Homo sapiens: one gene and its partners. The protein of the gene in region 3 interacts with the protein of the main gene of each other region in a biochemical or structural test. Each region holds a gene or a part of one and is shown on either strand. Other genes may lie near its edges.

Region 1 (4,337 bases), on a different chromosome or scaffold from region 3:
TCAAGCGTTTCTCAAGCGTGCATATTTGCAAAGTGTAGGCTAGGTACTGCAAGCCACAAAGATAAGCATGACAACTTTCCTGTACTCAAGAAGTTTACAATCTCATGAGGGAGAGGTGGGAATGAGACTGGGCATGAGCAGTTATGCTGTAAATTAGAGTAAAATCAGTTCCGTTTTAAAAAAAAACAACAACAACAAAAACAAAAAAACAAAAAAAAAACCGCAAAGAGTTATAAAGGGTCAAGTGCGAAGAAGAGAAGGACAACATTAAGTTGTGGGGAAATCAAGGAAACCTTTATGGGCCTTGAAGGATAGATAGGACAAGAAGCAGAGACAAGGTAAATACTTAATTCAAGCCCTCTCTTTCCCCAAAATGCCAGGCATGTTTAAGGAATATTAGTTGAGTTTGGTTGGAACATAGATATGTATAGGGGAGCAGTGAGATTTAGCTGGACATGTTGGTTTGAGGCATTAGTGCGGAGGATCCTATATGCCAGGATGAGGCACTAGGGAGCCACTGATTATTTTAAAGTAGCAGTAATTTGAGCAAACCCACTCTGGATTGAAGTGGCAATTAATAGAAAGTGAAGAGACAAATTAGGAGATGACTGTAACTGTCCAGGCTGAGATTAGACTCTGTAATAGTGTAGTGTTGGTGGAATGGAAAGGGGAGAAATTGAGGGAAAAAAAAAAAAACCAGCTAGAATCTATGGAATTTTGCAACTCACTATCCATGATGGCTTTAAAGAGAAAGCAGGATCAGAGACAATTTAGTGATTTTTGACCCAGATAACCAACATGGTTGATGCCATTGTTGACAAGAAAAAAGCAAAGGTGAGGATCTGATTTTTCAGATAGTTCTCTTTTTGTTTTTTTTTTTTTTCTTTTTAAAGGAATAGTGAATGATCAAATATTTCTGATAGAGATGTTAAGCAGGGAAAAGGAAATACAAGTTTAAAGCTGTCTGATGGGAATTGTTACACAGTTGTGTGACTACATGAGATTACTCAAAGGAGTGTGAAGAGAGAAACAAAGGGAGTCCAAGCTAGATTTTGAGGGAAAAAGCTTTTGTTTAGAGGGCAGGGAGAAAAAGCAGCAAGAAATAACATCGATGCACACTCTTCAAAAACTGAAAGATCAAGAGAAAAACTTATGACTCTACTGTTAGAAGAATCAGTCCTTGCACGTATTAGCATACATGCACAAAATCATTAGATTTTTCAGCAATGTTATCTTTAACAGAGAAAGATTTCTAGAAAAAAAATCCTGTTTAGTTTTTCTTTAGAGGAAGTGCTGCCAAAAAATTGTCTTAATAAAAGTAGTTAATTTGTGTTTATATACTACTTCATGCTGTCGTTTATACTCATTCACTTAAATCGCTCCTCTTTAAAGCAGTTTTTTAAATCATTGTCATCACTTACCAAATGAGGAAATTAGTACACAGAGATGTAAAGTAATGTTCTAACGCTTCCCTGGCAAATCAATAATAGATCTTCTGATACTCACCTTTATATGATCAAGGAACCAAAAATGAGTCCACAATGCCTTGTAACTCAGATTACCTAAAACACTTTGTATGTTAGTTTCTGTGGCACTGGTCTTGTATAAATGTTCCAGTCTTGGCTTAGCGTGTGTGTTGGCTCAGGCATTAGACTGGAAGCAGGACTTCCCTCCCTCCCAACCCTGGAGGGAATCAGATTCTCCAAGTGATTGTTGAATCTTAGGGACATGAGTCTGGACTTTGAGTCCAGACTGACTAGTGTTATTAAGAAAGAGGCGGCTTTCTTTACAGTTATAGTTTAATTTTTAAGAACAGCACAGCATGGCATTAGACTTAAGGACTTTATTTTTTTAATTCTTTTTTTTTTTTTTTTTTTGAGACAGAGTCTCACTCTATCACCTAGGCTGGAGTGCAGTTGGTGCAATCATAGCTCATTGCAGACTCAAACTCCTAGGCTCAAGTGATCCTCAAATCTTAGCCTCCCAAGTAACTGGGACTACAGGCACACACTACCATAACTGACTACTTGTAAAATTTTTTGTATCGATGAGGTCTCACTATGTTGCCCAGGCTGGTCTCTAACTCCTGAGCTCAAGCAATCCTCCTACCTCTACCTCCCAAGTTGCTGTGATTATAGGCATGAACCACTGCACCACCCAGCCTTGAGGCCTTTAATACTCTGAAACTTTTCTTTATATTATCAGTTGTATATAGCAATTTCACTGTGTACAATGAGTCATCATTTTTGTTGGTTTAAGTTATTTTTATGTAATATCAAATAGTTTTAAAAGTTAGATAGTGCTAAAAGACGTCTACGAACAACAGCAAGCCCCCAGCAATTCCCTGGTCCCTTCTCCTTTTCTGTCTACTCCACTTTCAACTCTTTCATATACTGCTATCTTTTTATTCATATTTTAGATGTTATCAGTAGTCTCAGGTGAGAATTTATGTTCACATGTATCTATTATTCTCCCCCTATCTTCCACAAGATGGTTTATCACAATTTCTGGTTAATATCTTATTTAAGTTCTTCATTAATATGACCATGTAATCATTGTTCACCGCTAAGTCAAGTAGTATAGTATGACTACATTTATTTTCTTTGATAATTGATTGTTTTTCTTGGAGTAAATATTTGTCACATCGTGTCCTTGTTTCTTAGCTAAATCTTCTACGGTGTCTAACTGTGTGTGTTTTCCTGAAGTTATCCTTTCTAGAGCCCTCTAACTTTCTTTGTATGAGGTCTTTTTTTCCCCCCGCTTCAGGAAGCTCTTAGAATTGTCTGTTCATTAGCTCTCTTCTGAAGATGTGCCTTGGTATGGATGCTTTCATCATCACCTGAGCTGGACACTTGGGTAACACTTTCCATCTGGACATTATGTCCTTTAGTTCTGGGAAGTTTTCCTAACCACTATTTTTATTCTTTGCTTTTTCTGGAATTTCTATGGTCTGGATGTTGGACCTCCTGACTGATCCCCTAGTTTTTATATCTCTTCTCTTCTGTTTTCCAGTGCTTGCTTTTTGTGTTTTTTCTATTTCCTTGTCTCTATCTCCCAACTCTTTCACTGAATTTATTTCCATTTTAGTGATTATATTTTTAATTTCTAAGAGCTCTTTCTTGTCTTATGAGTATTCTTTTTTATAGCATTCTTTATTTCAGAGATCCAGGGGTTTTTTTCCTAATATTTCTCAGGGGAGAAGAGATTAGGAAATAATAAACCTGGCTGTTAGTATTGACGAACTGGGCAAGAGTCCCCCTGTTCCTAGTTCCTGCCCCCCTGGTATCCCCACGTCTAGAGCATTTCTGTTTCTGTATCTCCAGAGATTCCATATCCTATCTCCCATAGGGGTGCAGGAGGGTTGTCACTTAACCATATCAATTAGCAGGTGGGGATGTAGGGGGAGGGTTTCTATGCACTTTTTATATAGCCAATTCCCTCATTTTAGGTTCCAGCCTTATCTCTACTTTCTGGAATTTTTTTTGCTTTCAATTTCTGGGCGTTCTCTAGCATTGAGCTGGGTGGATCAGCTTGTTTTCTGTAACAGCCACTGTAGTTGGAACTTCTTTCTCTCCACTAAATGATTTACTATTTTAACAACTCATCTCCTTTCCACCGTTATATATTGTAGCTTGGAGTTACAAATGTCTCTTGGTTTCATGGAAGATGAAATTTGTGTTGCAATTCCTTGTTCTCCTTGTTTAGGGAGGTAATTTTGAAAAGGAGAAGGGATGAGAAAGGCCTTTATTCCACCATCTTGAGACTGAACATCCCTATGATACACTCCTATGATTGTGTGTTGTGTTTATTTAAGCCCTAACATTGGCAATATTATTTAACGTAACCAAGAATGGCAGAAGGAAGAACATTCTTACTCGTAACTGATCTTATTAAGCACATGGAGTAGATAGTAACTTACACTGTGTGATAAGAAGGTCATCTGAATTCCCCACCTAAAATCATCTTAGTACCACACTTCTGAAATTTAACAATATAGAATATTTTGAAGAATAATAGAATGTTTGAATTTGAAAGGATTTCATCTAGTCCAGTCTCTTATTTTACAAATTAAGAAACTGAAGCTGCAGATTGACATCTAATTCACAGCAGCCCCAGGCCATCTGAAATCCCCAGCTTTCTGGGACTGTGCTGTTCGCACTGTGGCCTCCTGTGGTTAAGCATTTCTCTCTTCCTCAAAGAAATTTTAAAATGCATTTACTCTTGGGAGGAGCAATACAGGAAACTATTAATTAGTATTAATTTATTTATGAAATCCAATTAATTCATTTAAATTTGGCTGCTGATGGCAAATCAACTTGAGAAAGTTGGTAAGCTAA
Region 2 (4,337 bases), on a different chromosome or scaffold from region 3:
AGGCAAAAAGTACGTGTGTGAAGTAATTTGAGAATAATGTAAGACAGCATCAGAAAAGTGATTTTCTTGCATGTAACCTTGTGCCCACAGTATTTGAGCGGGCAGCAAGAGATAAGCTCAAAGTTAAGAGGAGGAGCTATTGAAGAAGCCAGAACTTGCAATGGCCCCTGAGTGGCAGAGAAATGGGGCGAGAGACCATTCCACACAGGGGATCCACAAGGATATACACACAGAAAGCAACCTGTGAGTGACAACACTGATAGGAGGAGAAAAAGCAGTCTGGGCGGGAGGGCAAGGTTGGTCACTGTAGACCAGTTTTCTTTTTAAAAGGTTTCCTCTCTGGTGTTAGGTACTCAGGAAGCCGAATGGAGAATAATAAAGTTCCTTGTTAGACAATATAATCGAGTAGTTTCAGAAAGCATTTCATATTCTAGGCATAGACAACAACAACCTTTTGGCTCTATCATACAAGTGGGGCTAAACACTATTCACGGGTACTGCTGTGTGTATTGGACAGGACTGGCAGCACTGCCTTAGAAGAAAAGAAAGGAAAAGAGTAAGAAAAGTAGAAAGAATAAGGAAGTGGCGGGGAGAGAGAGAGAGAGAGAGAAAGAGAGCGAGGAAAGAGGAATAGCATGGTAGGAAGCAGACCCATACCCATAATCGAACCCAGGGAATCCTGTGCTACAGGTTAGCCTCTCTTCCCTTCTGCTCAACACTTTTAGACCCTGACAGAGATGAGGAATGCCTCTGCCTGGAGAAAGGGCAGATTTCTCATCTGAGCTCGCTTCTTCCTGGGCAGACTGTGACAAATTTCTCACTTCCCCATCTCTCCCAACTCTAGGCTTTATGCTGATAGTGTTTATGTTCATTTCCAGACCCACTCAGACCTACTTCTTCCTTAGCCTGTAAGCTTATGTTAATTTCTGAGATTACTCTTTCCTGTGTCCAATTTACTTTATGAGCCAGTTGCTCACTTCCTGCTGTCTTGTTTGTAGCTGCTCCCTCTAAATGTTTAACAGTGTTTACTCGCTGCTCCATCCTAGCCATTAATGACCATTATGCAGTCATCTTTCAACTATTCAGAGGCTGATGCAAGCACTCAGTGAAGGAAACAGGTTTCTTGCAAACTCCTCCTCCTCCACCTTTCTCCTACTGTATGTTTTCTGGCCACTTCCCTGTTTGAGAATCCTGCGTGCAAGGTGGGAGGGAGGCAATGATGTTGAAAAACAGTTAACTCATCCCTTTGTCAGTTCGCCAGTAACTGTGGGTTGTTGTTTTATTTTTTAAAGGAGTTTTGAGAGTAAAAAGAACCTATTGATTAAAACACGATTTGTCTCTCTGCTTACATTTACAGAGATAAAAAAATCTAAAACAAAACAAAAATCCCATGATTTGTCTATTCGATGAGACTCCCAATTATCCATGGTCTGTCCTACCCAGTTAAAATGAACATTTGGAACTTTTTTTTCCTAAAGTGTAATAAAAATCAATATTTCCCAATTTTCTGGAATCCTAGACATGTTTTGAATACTCGGCTCCACCTCTTAAAGCCTCTGTTGCCTCTGTTGACTATTCCAGCCCTCCCCTTCTCTAGCTCTAGATCCTACCACACTTAAACTCTTCTGTGAGTCTAGCAAGCTGCCTCAGTTTCCCTACTGGACTGAGAAAAGACTGGGTCCCAAAAGAGACTTTTTTTTTTTTTTTTTTTTGAGACTGAGTCTTGCTCTGTTGCCCAGGCTGGAGTGCAGTGGCGTGATCTCGGCTCACTGCCAGCTCTGCCTCCTGGGTTCATGCCATTCTCCTGCCTCAGGCTCCCACGTAGCTGGGACTACAGGCGCCCGCCACCATGCCCGGCTAATTTTTTGTATTTTTAGTAGAGACGGGGTTTCACCGTGTTAGCCAGGATGGTCTCTATCTCTTGACCTCATGATCCGCTCGCCTCGGCCTCCCAAAGTGCTGGGATTACAGGCGTGAGCCACTGTGCCTGGCAAGAGACATTTTAAAGTCGAAAGATTTTTTAATTCATTGATCAGGTTCTGCACACTCACCCGGAAGTGCTCCTGAATACCCAAAGAAGCCCCCATCTTTCACCTATAGCTGCTATTTACACTAAACATTACATCATGGACATAGCAGTTTTATCAATGGTACTGTTGCTATCAGTATCCCCTCCCCAAGCCGAGAAGTCTTCATTTTCAGAGTACTTCTTCCTGACCCTAACGAATCATCTTTACCTTCCTGGGACCTACAGGAAGTTGGACGAACCCTGTCTGGCCTTGGGCTTTGGTCCCCTGAAGTTATATATATAGTCTCTACTGCTCATTTGGAACTGAGCAGATAATACTATGTACTGTTACCAGTTTTATGAAAGTTTGCTCTACCCAAGTAATTCTCCAGGAGGTCAGGAAAAATGTCCTTTACTTCTCTGTATTCTCCAGTATGTCTCAGACAGAAATGGGCATGTTGTCATTGCATAATTGACAATTTGACTCTAGAGCTTGGCTCTAGAGTCTTGCTTGGGTTTGAATCCTGGCTCTGCTGACTAAAAACTTTGTAACCTTAGGTGTGTTCTTTAATCTCCCTCTGTCTCAGCTTCTTCATATGGGAAGAATATTTACCTCACAAGGTTGTTGTGGAGATTAAATGAGTAAAGACATGTAATGTGCTTAGAATAGTGCCTGGCACACAATAAGCATCCCACAAACATTAGCTATAAGGAAGGAGGTTTAGGAGGTCAAAAGAATTGAAACAAGAATGGAGACTCTAATTCCTGAATCGCCAGCATTTTATAGGCCCTATGCTTCTCTCTCCAAACTTTAATCCTGCCCTTCTATTCTTCTCATTTCTTGTACCTAGGTCCCCACTCTGATGATGGACACGCAGTTCTCTGAATTCACACCGGACATCACTCCCATCATGCTGGCTGCCCACACCAACAACTACGAAATCATCAAATTGCTTGTCCAAAAACGGGTCACTATCCCACGGCCCCACCAGATCCGCTGCAACTGTGTGGAGTGTGTGTCTAGTTCAGAGGTAGACAGCCTGCGCCACTCTCGCTCCCGACTGAACATCTATAAGGCTCTGGCAAGCCCCTCACTCATTGCCTTATCAAGTGAGGACCCCATCCTAACTGCCTTCCGTCTGGGCTGGGAGCTCAAGGAGCTCAGCAAGGTGGAGAATGAGTTCAAGGCCGAGTATGAGGAGCTCTCTCAGCAGTGCAAGCTCTTTGCCAAAGACCTGCTGGACCAAGCTCGGAGCTCCAGGGAACTGGAGATCATCCTCAACCATCGAGATGACCACAGTGAAGAGCTTGACCCTCAGAAGTACCATGACCTGGCCAAGTTGAAGGTGGCAATCAAATACCACCAGAAAGAGGTAAGCTGAGCTCATGTCTGCTTTCAGGGAAGCTTAAAGCCTCCAAAGTCTGGAGCAGCAGAGCAAGAATCAGCATTTTTCTACCATTTAGCCCCCTAACAAACAAATGGTTGGGCAGGCCTCACAGCTAGGCCCATTTATCCGAGGCACAGACAACCTTTTTGTATTTTCTTTATGGCCAGATAAGTAACCATCTGATTCTTTGGTGGAAAAGCATTCATGCATTTAACAAATGCTTACTGAGCACTGTTCGGAGTGTTTGCGATACAGAAGACAGACACCGACCCTGCTTTCATGGAGCTTACAAGCTGGTGGTGGATATAGAGTAAATGATCACTTTAATGAATACATAATTACCTACTAAGATATGTACTCTGAAAGAACAGTGCTCTGTGAGAGCACATAACAAAGGATCCTATCCTATATACTGGGGACATAGTGGGCAGTGATTACAGGAGGGTCGCTGCCTGGATGCTGGTAATTGTTGGCACAACTGAATCCCTGGCAGCCCCTTAGCGAGAAGGCTAAAAAACACATTTGAAAGATGAAGTCATACTCAAGGTTTGTAGGTCAATGAAAGGCTGAAGCAGGATCTGCTATGGTATGACCTCCAAAATGTTAGGTTCCACGTCTTTGAGGGAGGTCAGTTCAAGCAGGTCACAGGTGAGGCTTTGATTTCCAGTTAGGGAAGATTTACAATCAAACAGGTGTAGTTCTATGCCAACTTATCAGACAGTTTGGGAGAGCCTCCTAACAAGGCTAACTTAGCCCTTTAAGGAAGCAGCATGATACCACGGAAAAAGCAGGGACTATGGAGCCAGAGCAACTGAGGATAGAATTTTAACCCACTAGCTGTATGACCTAAAGAAACTCACTCCTATTTTCAGGGCATTAGTTTTCTCATTTATAAAATAGAGATGAAAATAGTTTCTTCACTTCATAGGGGATTGTGGGAA
Region 3 (3,578 bases):
GGTGACCCTGCAGTGGCTCTTGAAGGCTGATGGTTTCATTCCCGCCCTCTGCACCCTCAGGTCTGGAGAGGGACAAGTTTGATAACAAGACAGTGTCATTTGAGGAACACATCAAGCTGGAGCACAACATGTGGAACTACTTGTACTTCATTGTGCTGGTCCGCGTGAAGAACAAGACCGACTACACGGGCCCTGAGAGCTACGTGGCCCAGATGATCAAGGTGTGAGCAGGGGCTGTGCCAGGCCTGTGGGCCCAAACCAGCCATTCTAGAGTCATCACTGTGCACCAGAGGCCTCATGGTTTTAGCTTCTGAGTACCCTGGGCCCTGGAGAGGAGTGGCCCTATCTGACTGTTGGCCCTAGGAGGCCAGGCAGAGGGGCTCGGACAGCTGCAGACACTTGTTGAAAGGTCAGCAGGGCGAGGAGCAGCAGCTGGAAGCAGCTCTGGGCTGCACGGAAGCCGCTGCTGCAGAGGGGCCTCCTCACACTTCTGGGTGTCAGGAAAAATCCCACAGCAAACCCATGCGCCCCGAAGAACACGTGTGGTATCCCTGGGCCTGTCGTGCAGTGATGCTGAGGAGGGGTGGAGTTGGGGAGACCCTGCCCGTGGCCAGTGATCTGTGGGCCGCTCTCAGGGAGTGTTTTCTAGCTCGGTGGGAAGGCAGGCTGCTTCCTAAAAAGTCTGAATTAGATGATCCTGGGCTGAAGGGGAGCCTGGAAAAACTTTAAAAATCACTTACAGAAATCAAATGTCATCTGTCCAATTTCTGTAATAATGGAGTGAAGGCAATGAATCATAAAGAAGGAATTATTTATCGTTTAGTCTGTATTTCAAACTGATCTTTGTGTACAGGTTTATCTGTTGGTCTGAGAATTCACAGCTTACTACAAGGAAGCTGAGAATTGCTTGGTGCCCCCTCCCCCCCCGACTCCTCTGTCCTGGGAAACGTGGCTTTGCCTCCCAGACACGTGTCAGATGCCAGCTCTCCTCAGCGGAGCCTCCTGATCCCTCAATTTGCCATCTGTCTGACTCGCGTCTTCCCGGGGCGTGGGGCGTGCTTGTCAGGCAGGCGGGCGGGAGGAAGGAAGGAAGGAGATCCAGGGTCTGTCTGGGTGCAGAGGCCTTCCTCCACCTCTCAGGGGGTGTTATGAGAGTAAACAGATGGTGCTGATACCAGCAAAGGACTCAAACTCAGCTGCCGACGCTGCCTAACGGAAGTCAGCCTGTCTCGGTGGCAGAGGGTTGACAAGAGGGTTGACTGCCAGCTCACTCTGGCCCCGGGGAGGACCAGGTCAATTCAGATTTTCCCATGACACATCCCTGACGAGTAGTTTTGTTAAGGGTGTGGCAGAAGCCTCCCCCCACATTACTGTTTTTCTAAATGAGGCCTTTCTAGGCCGGGCCCACGCCTGCTTAACCCACTGGTGATGTTTTTCAGAACAAGAACCTGGACTGGTTCCCCCGGATGCGGGCCATGTCCCTTGTCAGCAATGAGGGCGAGGGGGAGCAGAATGAGATTCGGATTCTCCAGGACAAGCTCAACTCCACCATGAAGCTGGTGTCCCACCTCACTGCCCAGCTCAACGAGCTCAAGGAGCAGGTGTGCACCCCGCCTGATCCCAGGCCCACCCTGGGTTCTATCCCTGGGCAGTCCCTGCCTGCCTTCATCCTTCCTGACCCACCCTCTTCCCCACTGGCCTCTGGCCCTGGGCCTGGATGAGAAGGCAGGTGCCAAACCCACTCTCCCCTGCATGGCAAGTCAGACTGGGGTTGACAACCCCTGCCTTGGGCCGCTAAAGACAAGGCCAAGTGGAAACTTTAGTACAGGGTGGTGGGGCCCTCTGTCTCTCATCCCCTTCCTCTGACAGCTGCCAGGTAGGTCCTTTGAGGGGATCCCCATCACTGGAGATGGGGGAGTTTAAGGCCCTCTTGCCTAGACATCCTCTTCTGCATCTGGCAGTGCCTGCATGAAGATGAGGCAGCCTCTGTTAGTGGGCTGGTTTCCCAGCTGCATCAAATCCAGGGTTTGTGACACGCTAATTGAGAACAAGGGTTTGGTGCTGACATCGACATCCTTAAAGCACCCCGAGGGGCCCTGGCCCGCCGCCAGTGCCGAATAGCAGCTGGGCCCACAGGGGAAGACGGGTGCCAAGCTCTTCCACAGCACCCATGGAGGGAAGGTGCCAGGCGGCCTGACCAGGCCTGTTGGCATCTGCTTAACCCTAGATGACGGAGCAGCGGAAACGCAGGCAACGCCTAGGCTTTGTGGATGTCCAGAACTGCATTAGCCGCTGAGGAGAGCCACCGAAGGCCCCAACAGGGGATGCTCATCACTGGAGACTGCGACTGGGAAGAACACTGCCCCCTCCCTCGGGTTGGGTGGCCCAGCCAGCTGGCCAGCCTCCACTCCCACTCTGCCAGACACCCTGACACCCACCCAGGCTTTGAAGAGCATGGAGGGGGAGCCTCAGAGCTGACAGTCCTGCTTAGAGCCCTTAAAAAGACTTGAAAGTTCACTGGGACTCAGTTTACCTTAATGCCTTAGCAGAAGATAAATCCTACCTAGAGACCTTTGTTCCTTAAAGCAATAACTGACAACTCTTTGTAGTCCTCCTTGTGGGTAGTTAAGAGTGGGGTCACCCCTTTAACTCCAAGCACTACATTTTGGCGGCTGCCGGCCTCTGGGGGAGGTGGCAGTTATGCTGTTACTAGTGATTTTAGGGCTTTGTTATTTAACTTATTTCAAGGGTGCTGTGCTCAGCCCTGCCCATGGCTGTGCAGCTCCCTCCGTGCCTCAGATCTGCTGTAGCCAGTGCAGACCTCACTGTCGTGTCCATGCCACCCCCGGCATGGCTCCAGGTGGCCTGGTGACTCCATGATGGACGATCTTGCTCCCAGGACCTGCCTCTTCCCAGGCTTCCTGGGGAAGAGTTGTACGCCCAGGCAACAAGGGCTGAGCTGCGCTTGCGTGGCTGTTTCATGACCGCTTGTTTTTCTCCTTTTGGTGTAATGTTTTACAAATCCTTTGGCCTGAGAACTAATATGTTAATTGCCTTAAATAAATTAATAGAAATCTAGTCCGTTAAAAAGGGATGTGTTTCCTGCACTCCCCCGGGGGCTGTGGGGATTAACAGGACACACTGGCAGAAGACAGGAACAAGAGCCCCTCCCTGCTGGCCTGGCCTCTCAGGCTCTCAGGAGATACGCTGAGTGACATCCTGTCTCAAGGGTCCTCCCCTGAGATTTGCCTACCCAGAACTGCATTTCGGCATAACTGGTTTCTACGGCAGTCCTGTCGATTTTATTTTATGCATTTCAGAACATCCTGAGGAGTCTAGACACAGACGAGGTTAAGAACCCACTTCCACTTTGTACCCACCAGGGCCGCTGTGGGCCCAGCCCTGTCCCTCACGGTTCCAGAGAGAAGGATGCTCAATATCAGTAAGAGCCAAGGTTCCATGGAATAATGAGGTGACCCTGTGTGTGTCCTCAGCCAGCAGGGCCTCTGACTTGTGGCCACCTACAGAACCTGCCCACAGTGCTGAAGCCAACTGCAGCTGAGGCCCCGCTTGGCCAA
Region 4 (4,337 bases), on a different chromosome or scaffold from region 3:
TCAAATTCTAATGTGCACTTTGACTTTAGAAATTGAATTGCCTAGACTCAATTGGAACCAGTGTTATTGACCTCTTTAATGCCTATGGAAACCCCACCATGATTATTTGGTTCTCATTAAAAATGAGGTTGAGGAGACAGCTCAAAATAAAAACTTTGCCTTTTCACCTAATTTATACCCTATACCCGCCCCCCCCCACAAAAAATAAACATTAAAACTGGTTCGACTCAACCCAAATTTAATTGGGAATTTGTTTCTATCTAGTTATAATGAAGAGTTGATTTAGAACTATCTCACTACTCATGTTTTCTATTTCTCACCCTTCCAGAGGCATTGACCCCGCAATATTTTAAGAGATTTGAGAATATTTTGATCAGGGATATAATATCATGGCTGTGTCTTTTTAATCAGCACAAATATAGACCTAATTTTTGAGAACATTAGTATTACCAAAATAACTTTATGATGCAAAAAATGCATTTAGGGAAAGACACCATTTGTTTGGGAAACTGAAAATTAAAGGCATGCGCATTGAAAATGTATTAATTCAAAACCTTGTGGTTTCATGAACTATTTAGCAAATTAAGTGCTGTATTTAAATGTTTAAAAAATATAAGTGACCCTCCTGAAAGTTGTTTAATTTTAATAGAATAAGAAAGAAATAGTTTCAGAACTTGATCTACTATTGTAACTAAACTGTATGTAATATCCTATTAATATTAGTGTATGTTTTATCTCTCTTTTTAAAAATATAGCAGTGTCATAGAATAATGACTTCTTGAGAGACACTAAGTGACACATGGACACAGTGTTACATATAAAATTAGAAATGTTAATTAAAACATTAATTTAAAAATATGCCTTGATAGCTTTATCTAGCACACTGCATTCTTTTTGAGAAATGACAGTGAAATTAAATGAATCAGATATTCATTAATTATATTCTGTCTGTGGTTTGCTGTTAGATTTTGAAATATGTTGAAAAATTACTTCAAGCAAATACTATCAAGAGTTCAAATTTACCTGAAACAGGACCTATTGTGAAAAAAGAAAAGAGGGAAAATGGGCCAATATTTATGAGAATTTAATGTACACTTGGCACTATGTGAGAAACTTTGAAAAAGAAAGCTATTTTTCATTGTTATCTTAACATCTACCTTGAAACTGAAGTATTATCACATTTTAACAACCTGAGAAAGATGAAATTTATGAAAATCACAAAATTGCTTTGTGGGAAGGCAGGATTTGAAGTATATCAAATTTTACTATCAGGTACTACGTCTACCTGATGGTAAAGACTACACTCTTTTTACTTAATTCCTGTGGTTTCTAAAATACAATCAATAATCTTTTAACAAGTTTCATAAATTCATTTTTTCAGCTATTTGTTTCTTGAATTTTAAAAATATTATAACATTGGAATATAAACAACTGTCCCCATCATGGGGATAGAATTTGAAACAATAGTCTGTTAAAGTTCCATCAGTTTTGAAGCAGAGCAAGAGATAAGCTACTTATCTTGAGCAGGATGATCTCAAAATGACTTCCTTTCTTATTCTTAAATATAAATCTAATACATGTAAAAAGAAAAAAAAAGTTTGTTTTTATGAACAAAGTTCAAGATTATAATTTTTTAGAAATACTCATGAGCTTATAATTTATAAATAAAAAGTTATCATGCTAACCTTTTGACCATCTGTAAGCTGGTAATAAAATGTCTTTATTAAAAAAAAGGTCATGCTAGGCCATGTTAGGTTTATACTACATCTTATCAATGTTATGTAAAATTTCTAGACAAGTGTATTTGTTTTAGTTTTCCCTGAAATTTTAATTTTCCAATTATTTTAATGTCCCTTGGTATTTGAGAGGAGCTCTCATTCATGCATCCCAAAAGACATCGATTAGCTGAATTTGTCATGATATTTACTAAACATATATATGCATTTGCGCTGACAGGATTGTGTCCAAAACCTATTGACATTGAGGTTGAAGGAATACTTTCTTTGAATATATGTACTACCATTACAAAAGTTATCACTAAAATCTTATCCATTCAGTAGATATTTGTTGAATATTAGTAAATGAATAATTGAATCAATAGATGAATGGCACATGCGTAAGCTTTTCATTTTTGTTGCATTTCCTGGCAAAGCTCCCTCTGTCTAGAATAACTTCTACCTTTTTGTTTCTGTAAAAATATTCTGCAGGCACTAAAGCCTAGTTAGTGCCTAGTTAGTGCCTAGTTTGTGCCTAGTTAAATCCAATATGACCGTATCCTTGAAAGTTTCCTTCATTTCTCCAGATGTCCCAAGTATAAATACAAGCAAAGAGCTTGTTATATTCTGTCTTGCAGGCTGGCAAAGATCTGTCTCCAGATCTAGACAGTAAACTTTTTAAAGAAAACCGGAGGATTTTCAAAACTGTGTGAGTTTGTAACTGAATTAGAGTGCCATAAATACTATGCTTCATAATTGACATAATTAATGTATTTTATACTTTCATAATATTGTACTTGGCTAAACTTTTAGCATATTTTTATATAATGATGCCAATTGTGATAATGTTGCACTTATACAATATATTGAGTACCATATTATTTCTTATGTTACAAAAATAATTTACCCACCATTATTCAATAAACTTAACTTTCAGTCAGCTACTTACTCTATAATGCTCATTTTTATAGGATTTATATAACCAGTTATTAATGTGTTTCAGTTTAAGTGGTACTGTGCCAGAATTCTTAAAGGAGGGCTTTTGTTCCATTACACTATGAGAGGAGTAGTTAGAGTTGAAAGAGGACAGATACAAGTGTTTCTCAGGAATGCTTACTGAACTAAAGAAAGCCAGAGACTTCTTTGGAGTGATATTTGGAAAGTAAGTTGAGAGTGCATTTCAAAGACTTGACAATACATGATGTTCCATTGTGGGTGGCATGAGGGATTTGTTTTAAATTATTTTCATTCTACTTCATTGACAATAGAGTTTTTACAAATCAGATTATGAAAAGTGTTCAGATACTCTGCCACATTTTTAATGCATTTCATCTCTAAATGATAGTGGAGAAGTAACACAATTTGCATACCGGGATCATAGTTCATAACACATTGTAATTTTTATTTTCACAGAATTAGTATAATAGTGCTGACTATGTGCTTTTTGAATAGATGAGTGAAATAAATGAATGCATAGATGATTGAATTGGTCTGTCATCAGCTGCTATGCTCAACCTCTTTAACACACTGTTCATTCAAGTAGCTGATCATACACCAATATGAATCTCCAAAAACACAATGGAGGGATGAGAGGACAGGCATAGTGTACATGGAGTGAAGAACAGAGAATCTATCATGATTTATGTACAATCATCTCCATCATTTATGACAGCATGAGTTTCTTTTTATGTAAAGATCCCTTTCATTCTAAGGTAAAGTGAAGCTGCATGCCCTGAATCACACTGAGGTCACACTTTAAATGAATGCTCTTTTGTGGTAGTTGCAGTTTGACAAGCAGAGTTGGGTCTTCTTTAATTTTATCTAGAGCCCAATATGTACAGGAATATAATATATATGTGTATACAACATACATATAAGTATATATGTGTAAACACACAAACATATATGTAATAACAGTAAATAACAAGTAATAAAGAGTGGGAGACTGCTTGAGTGTGAGACACAAATTATTATCAAATAGTATAGAGTAACCCATAAAGGACCACAGTATTTGTTTTTGAATATGTCAGTGTCCCTATAAAATGGTTAGATTTGCAATGAATGACTTGGAAGATCATCTTATTTAAAAGTATGTTTGTAAGTAGGCCCCCTAAATCTTTCTATATGATCATGCAGTCATACATCAAATACGTCCTGAGAAAGGCATCATTAGGCAATTTCATCATTGCACGAACATCATGGAGTGTACTTACACAAACCTAGATGGTAGAGCTTACTACATACCTAGGCTATATGGAATAGCCTATTTCTCCTAGGCTACAAACCTGTGTAGCATGCTACTGTAGTGAATACTGTGGGCAATTGTAAATATACAATGGTAGGTATTTGTGTATTTAAACATAGAAAAAGTACAGTAAAAATACAGTATTATAATCTTATGGGCCCACCGTCATGTATATAGTTCATTGTTGCCCAAAATGTTGTTATGTGATGCGTGACTGTGTATTTCTCTGTCTACACATACGCACACATACACACACACACGAGCACACACTTTACTGAGGTCTTAATACATAACAGTCACTCTGCTAGATTCTGAGGATACAGAGATGAACAAGACATATTTTCCTTTTTCTTTAATATTTTAAGCAAAGTTTGTTC

What was found.
Region 1: the proteins of ITPR3 (region 3) and TRPC3 form a complex in vitro, tested with the Homo sapiens proteins (one study listed by BioGRID).
Region 2: the proteins of ITPR3 (region 3) and TRPC5 form a complex in vitro, tested with the Homo sapiens proteins (one study listed by BioGRID).
Region 4: the proteins of ITPR3 (region 3) and TRPC4 form a complex in vitro, tested with the Homo sapiens proteins (one study listed by BioGRID).

Annotation. Positions count from the first base shown.
Region 1 is NC_000004.12:121,944,724-121,949,060, reverse strand, and holds part of TRPC3 (short transient receptor potential channel 3), read left to right. Parts: intron 1-4,337. UniProt on the Homo sapiens protein: Forms a receptor-activated non-selective calcium permeant cation channel.
Region 2 is NC_000023.11:111,911,335-111,915,671, reverse strand, and holds part of TRPC5 (short transient receptor potential channel 5), read left to right. Parts: intron 1-2,859; coding exon 2,860-3,381; intron 3,382-4,337. UniProt on the Homo sapiens protein: Forms a receptor-activated non-selective calcium permeant cation channel. Mediates calcium-dependent phosphatidylserine externalization and apoptosis in neurons via its association with PLSCR1.
Region 3 is NC_000006.12:33,693,485-33,697,062, forward strand, and holds the end of ITPR3 (inositol 1,4,5-trisphosphate-gated calcium channel ITPR3), read left to right. Parts: intron 1-60; coding exon 61-221; intron 222-1,439; coding exon 1,440-1,601; intron 1,602-2,227; coding exon 2,228-2,296; 3' UTR 2,297-3,078; downstream 3,079-3,578.
Region 4 is NC_000013.11:37,862,707-37,867,043, reverse strand, and holds part of TRPC4 (short transient receptor potential channel 4), read left to right. Parts: intron 1-4,337. UniProt on the Homo sapiens protein: Forms a receptor-activated non-selective calcium permeant cation channel. Acts as a cell-cell contact-dependent endothelial calcium entry channel.